Regions from separate parts of the Homo sapiens genome. Here region 1 is linked to region 2. Evidence: fine-mapped expression QTL. A gene starts in region 2. The other region holds a variant in brackets. All regions are shown on one strand. Distances are from middle to middle.

Region 1 (2,916 bases), 33 kb before region 2:
ATTCATGACTCACTGCCTTACCTGTCTTTGGCTCTGCATGTCCCCCAGTTTCCGTTTCTTTCTCTGGAAAGAGAGATTGCCCAAGAGTCCTGCACATCAGCATTACTAGAAATGCATGCAGACCAGCTTCAGCTGCTTGCCAACTCTTTAAAAAATGAGTAAACAATTTTCTAAAGGGGAAAAAATCTCTTCACCTCCTCACACCAACTATTTGCATAATTCAGTGACCTTTTATAAACCGTGCCATTGTATAAGCATCATTTGCAAGGGTAGAAATCAACTATTCATCCCATTTCATACTCTACCTCATTCACCTAACATTTTTCTGTATAAACTTTCTCATGTATTGACAGAGTACTAGTATTTATCATTTGTAATGGTTATATAATATTCTATCATATTAATGTTTCATAGTTTGCTTAATAATTCCCCATTTGTGGAGCTTTTGGGTGTTTTCCAGGATTTTCTTATTATGAACAGGGCAGAAATAAACATCTTTTCACAAATAGCTTATATTTCCTTTTCAGTTATTTCCCTGGTATATATTCCCAGAAGAGGGATTATTAGGTCAAAGGCTAGAGACGCTTTTATGGCTTTTGTTGTGAGGTGCCAGACTGCTCTCCAAAAGACTGTACTAATTTGCAATTCTCTCGTCTTTTTATTCGTGCTTTGTAGCCTCCTAATGAATTCCCCCAGGGGTTGTTCCAAATCTTCTGGGCCTGCCTGGGGCATCAAGCCACTCTCAACCTTCAGAGGTGATTTTACTGGGAAAGTTACACACATGTCCCTGAGTTTCCTCAACTTCCTTCCACATCAATGTTTCTATTTTTACCTGGGCTTCCCTCCTAGGCTGATCTCTGAAGAAGAGGTGTCTGATTTCCTCTCCAAACACACCTCCCTGCCTGCATATTTGACCACGGTCCCTCTTCCTGTCTCTTCAGCACCATGCTGCATCAGTTATTCCACCCTTTTTACATCATCTGTCTCTCCCTCTTCTTCTGCTCTTTCCCCTCAGCCTGCAAATATCCTCATCTCCCTTTTCCTAAAAGCAATAGGCAATTTCTCCCTCTCCCCATGAAATATCTTTTTCTGTCACCATCCATCTTTCTGAAGGAAGAGTCTACACTTCACCATCTCATCTTCTAGTTCCTTCTCAACCTTTTGCCCTCTTTTACTGATGACCAACACTCAACTAAAGCTGCCATGTCAAGGCCACCAATAATTTTCTTAAAAATCCAAGCAAATGACCCTTTATCGGTCATCATTCCTACCACCCTGTTGGCTATCTTGTCCTCATTGAAACATTTTCCTATCTGAGGTTCCGTGGCCGTAAAATTTCTTTAGAGTCCCTTCTATCCTACCAAAATTGTACCTCTATAAGAATTTGTTCTCAAACCTTTTAGTGAACTTTAAATGATATCTACCTCCCACTGTGTAGCAGCCAGGAGAATTGGGAGGGACTGATCCTACCCCCAGCTCTAGTGGAAGCTATGACTCATCTAAGCCCATTAGTATAAACCCATTCCTCCTACCACAATGATGTCTCAGGGAAAACCAGACCAGAGCAATTAACATGTGACATTTACATATGACCTCTGGTGATCCAATTAGCGCCAAGCTCAGGATTTTTGTTTG[G/A]TAGTTGAGGGAAAATAGTTATTTCTTTCCTCTTGGATATAAACGACAAAGCATGTAAACCTAATTGCTGTTGGCTACCATTGTACAAACTTGAGGGAATCCAGTATGAAAATGAAACAACACACAGAATAAAGCAGAGAGAACTGATGCACAACGGATCCAAATCCCTGACTGAACTATGCCTGAAGCCCACTCTATTATCGGATTTTTCAGTTACATGAGCCAATAAGTTCCTTGCATTACTTAAACCATGATGTGTAGGGATTTCCATTATTTGCAATCCAAACATATAACCGTTATCGCTTCCTTCACGGTTCTCCCTTTATATGATATGTTATATCTCATTGCTCTTACCTATTCCCATAGCTTCCATGTTTATATCTATGTAGACGATTCCTCTACACCTCTACCACCTGTCTCCTTACCTTCAACTCCAGCACTACTAGCCTTTCACTGAGTAGCTATACTTGGTTTATGAAGCTTTAATCTTAGCATATGTAATACCAACATTTTTACCATCATCACCCAAGCCAAATCAACCTCACTTCCCCACTTTCCTATGTTGGATTATTCAGTTGCCCAAGTTTGAAACTTCAGAGTTATCCATATCCTTTTTTCCTTTAGGCCCCTCAACCAGTCAGCTACCATGACCTCACACTTTTGCCTCTGGCTGCATCCTGACCAACATAACCTCGGTGTCAAATTGACAGTCTTCTCAGTTGGTCTCCCTGCCTCCTAGCTCTCCCAGTTTCTGATCACTCTACACAACACCCATCAGAAACATCTTCCTGAAACATCAAACCAATCAAACATTTTTAATGATTTCTCAATGTGTTTTAGATTTAGCCAACACTTTCCATTCTAAACCCAAGAATGGATTTAGACCACTACAAGGTCTTTTCACTATCTTTCTGGTTTTATAATCCCATTACTCTCTCATTGGTGCCCAAGCTACAGGCAAATTGAACTACATCCCAGTTCTTCCACACCTTGCTGCCAATGAGATGAATCTGCCTGGACCAACTTCCCTTCACATTTCATCTGTTGAAATCCTACTCTTCCTTTAAGAACCATCTCAAAACCACCTCCATAAAAGATACTTTGATTTACCTGAATAGATATTTCTCTTCTTGAACCCTACACTGTGTCACTCTTGTGTTACTCATCACAATAGGAAAGCTAACTTTTATTTTTGTATCCACTAAGCACAGAACATAGGGCCTTGAAAGTGGTAGGTGCTCAATTAATACTCCTTCAATTAGTCTGATTCGAGGGCAAACT
Region 2 (2,916 bases):
TCACTCTGACTACCACTGCATGAAGCCCCTGTCACATACACCCCAGATTGCTCAATCAATCACGACCCTTTCATGTGAAATCTTTAGTGTGGTGAGCCCTTAAAAGGGACAGAAATTGTGCACTCGGGGAGCTTGGATTTTAGGACAGTAGCTTGCCGATGCTCCCAGCTGAATAAAGCCCTTCGTTCTACAACTTGGTGTCTGAGAGGTTTTGTCTGCGGCTCGTCCTGCTACAATAGAATCTCCAAGATTTGGTGACCATTTGAATATTGGAGGAAGAGGAAGTGAGAAAGGAGGAATCAGGTTAAAGAGTGAATATTAATGAGTAGGGAGGAGGGGTAGTAGTTTACTTTTCTTTTTTTGGGGGACGGAGTCTCCCTGTGTTGCCCAGGCTGGAGTGCAGTGGTGCAATTTTGGCTTACTGCAACCTCCGCCTCCCGGGTTCAAGCGATTCTCCTTCAAGCAATTCTCCTGCCTCGGCCTCCTGGGTAGCTGGGATTACAGGTGCCCACCACCACGCACAGCTAATTTCTGTACTTTTAGTAGAGACAGGGTTTCACCATGTTGGTCAGGCTGGTCTCGAACTCCTGACCGCAGGTGATCCACCTGCCTTGGCCTCCCAAAGTGCTGGGATTACAGGCATGAGCCACTGTTCCTGGCCCCAGTAGTTCACTTTTCAAGGACACTGGAGATGCCTGTGGGCATGGATGAGGAGAGGTCTTGTCTAGGAAGTTGGGAATACAAACAATGAGCTCAGGTGAGAAGGGACTGGAGTGTCCCCTCTCCCACCCCAATTTTAAGAACTCTGGAAAACACCAATATTTTAGAGGTAAGTTAGAGGAAACAAAGTAGAATGAATTCAGAGAAGGAAAACCTGGATAGTGTCATAGAAAATAAGTGATAATGCCCAATAGCGTCAAATGACTAAAGCTTGAGTTAGATGAGTCCGGAAATACCTCCAATGAGTTTGGCAACAAGGACACTTATGACAACAAGGCATTTTCCATGGGGGCGGAAGCTGCGATGAGGAGTGAACACAGATGAGCAAGTAGAGACAGTGTAGATTATCTTTTTCAAAAAACTTGGCTGTGAACGGAGGAAGTGAGATGGTATAATTGAGTGGAATGTAAGGAGATTTGCGCACGTATATAGCCGAGAGGAATGAGGAAGGGTTGAAGGGACAGGAGCAGAAATGCTCTCCGGCACTCGCCATTTTGCCAGCTTCTCCCCTACGTGACCTGAACTCAGTGGGCGCGGCCGGGCCTCGCGGAAACTACAACCCCCAGAAGGCCCCACGGCGTTGGGGGCGGAGCCGAGGCCTGACGCGCGCCCCAGCGGCGCGAGCGGAAGAGATAGAGCTTCGCGGAGACGGCGGAAGCGGAGAGCAACAGCGCGCCGGTAACAACCAGCCCCGTATCCCCTCCCTCTGTACCTCAAGCTAGGATTTTTAATCCCCACTTCTCCCTTCACAGCCCGGGACAAGACTTCCATTCCGTCGTTTGTTGCTGGTATTTTTTTTCCTCATGTGACGCGAGGGGCCGCCCCCTGCCTGGGGCGGAGGTTACTGGGAAGCTCCCGCCTTCTGACCCCTGCGGGCCCGCGGTTGAGAGGGACCCTCCCGGGGCTCTTTTGCACTCACTGGGGCTCGTGCTCGCTTTGGGCGCTCGCCCCAAATGATCCTGGCGGAAAGGACGTGCTTTTTCTGGGTTTCAACAGGTATTGAGCGGGGTCCCTGGTTACCCCCTCGGGGCTGCGGGGCCGTGGGCCCCCAGGGCTGCCGGCGGTTTCCGGGCTTCGCTTCGAGCCTCGCCTTTGAGCCTCCTCCGCTGCCCGGGAGCCCCGGGCTACGGGCTGGGAGTGAGCAATCTATAAAGGAGCATGTACTTCCTGCTTTTTCTTGGCAGGCCTGCGAAAAACCCCAAGTCCGATCTTTAAAGTTTGTGAGTGCAGCCCCCTCTCAGTTGTGTACGGGAAGGAGCACAGGATTTGGAGTCTGATATCCTGGGGGAAGTCTCAGTCCGCCACTTGGCTGGACCTGTGATCTTTTGTACAGTAGTCTGTTTAGCGCAGCCTCGGTTTCGTTGTCTGAAAAGTGGGGTTAATGTTCTTTGCCCTGCGGCCTTCCAGGGTTGTGGGCTTCAGCAGAAGTGATATTCCTGCGAAAGCTTTGAACTCTAAAGTATGTTTCGGGTATAACCTTGCCATCCCCCAGTCTCCAGTCTAGGTCAGTTGAGTTTTAAAACCAGGTTCATGTCTATACGAAGATCAAATTAGTTAATAAATAGGGGGAAAGTGTCTTTGGAAACGAATCTGAACCATACAGATGTTTTTATGCCAGGTTCCTAGTGAAGAGGTGACCTTAGGGCGTTACCACCTGTGGAGTCAATTTAAAACTTCATCTGGATTTTAAGGCCCACCAGAATTTAGACTCTTCTTCCTCAGCACACACAACTATCTCTTGCTGTTATAACCTTCCTTCAGTATCACACAGGTACAAGCATAAAGCAGTAAACGTTCCTCAGATATGGTTGTACTACAACTAATACCTGTCCCCAGCAGGTCTTGTGTCTTGTGTCACAGTTGAAATTCAGAATATAAATAGCCAAATATCCCATCTGTTTAATTTTTTTTGACATTAAGCTTTGAGACTAAGCAAGTTGCTTATTGTCTTATTTTTCCCCTTACAGAGAATGCTAATTCTGCAATCAGTTTTTTTTTTTTTTTTGGGTAGAATCAGGATTTCACTATGTCGCCCAGATTGGTCTAACTCCTGGGCTCAAATGATCCTCCCGCCTCGACCTCCCAAAGTGTTGGTATTACAGGCGTTTGACACTGTGCCCACTGTGCCCGACCTCTGCGATTAATTTTTAAAGGGGTAAGAAAGTGTAGTTAGGTATTTTTAGTCTGTGTTTATTC

Direction of the effects. Alleles are on the strand shown, and positions count from the first base shown. SD is a standard deviation of normalised expression in the study named.
In carriers of allele G in region 1, the expression in sun-exposed skin of the gene that starts at base 1,349 in region 2 tends to be lower than with A alone (small effect, 0.23 SD a copy in GTEx).

Evidence for each region. PIP is the estimated chance that this variant, and not a neighbour inherited with it, causes the effect. A credible set is the group of variants that fine-mapping cannot tell apart.
Region 1: its variant is the best candidate, but not a certain one, in a credible set for the expression of R3HCC1L in sun-exposed skin (GTEx, PIP 0.58).

Annotation. Positions count from the first base shown.
Region 1 is chr10:98,100,028-98,102,943 of GRCh38, forward strand. No RefSeq gene overlaps it. Among named protein-coding and RNA genes, the nearest start is that of R3HCC1L, 33 kb to the right of the region's middle. The variant G/A (reference allele first, on the strand shown) is at 1,636.
Region 2 is chr10:98,133,309-98,136,224 of GRCh38, forward strand. R3HCC1L (R3H domain and coiled-coil containing 1 like) reads left to right here and starts at 1,349. Exons shown (of 10, transcript NM_001351015.2): 1 at 1,349-1,398. RefSeq lists enhancers at 1,776-2,565, 1,908-2,047.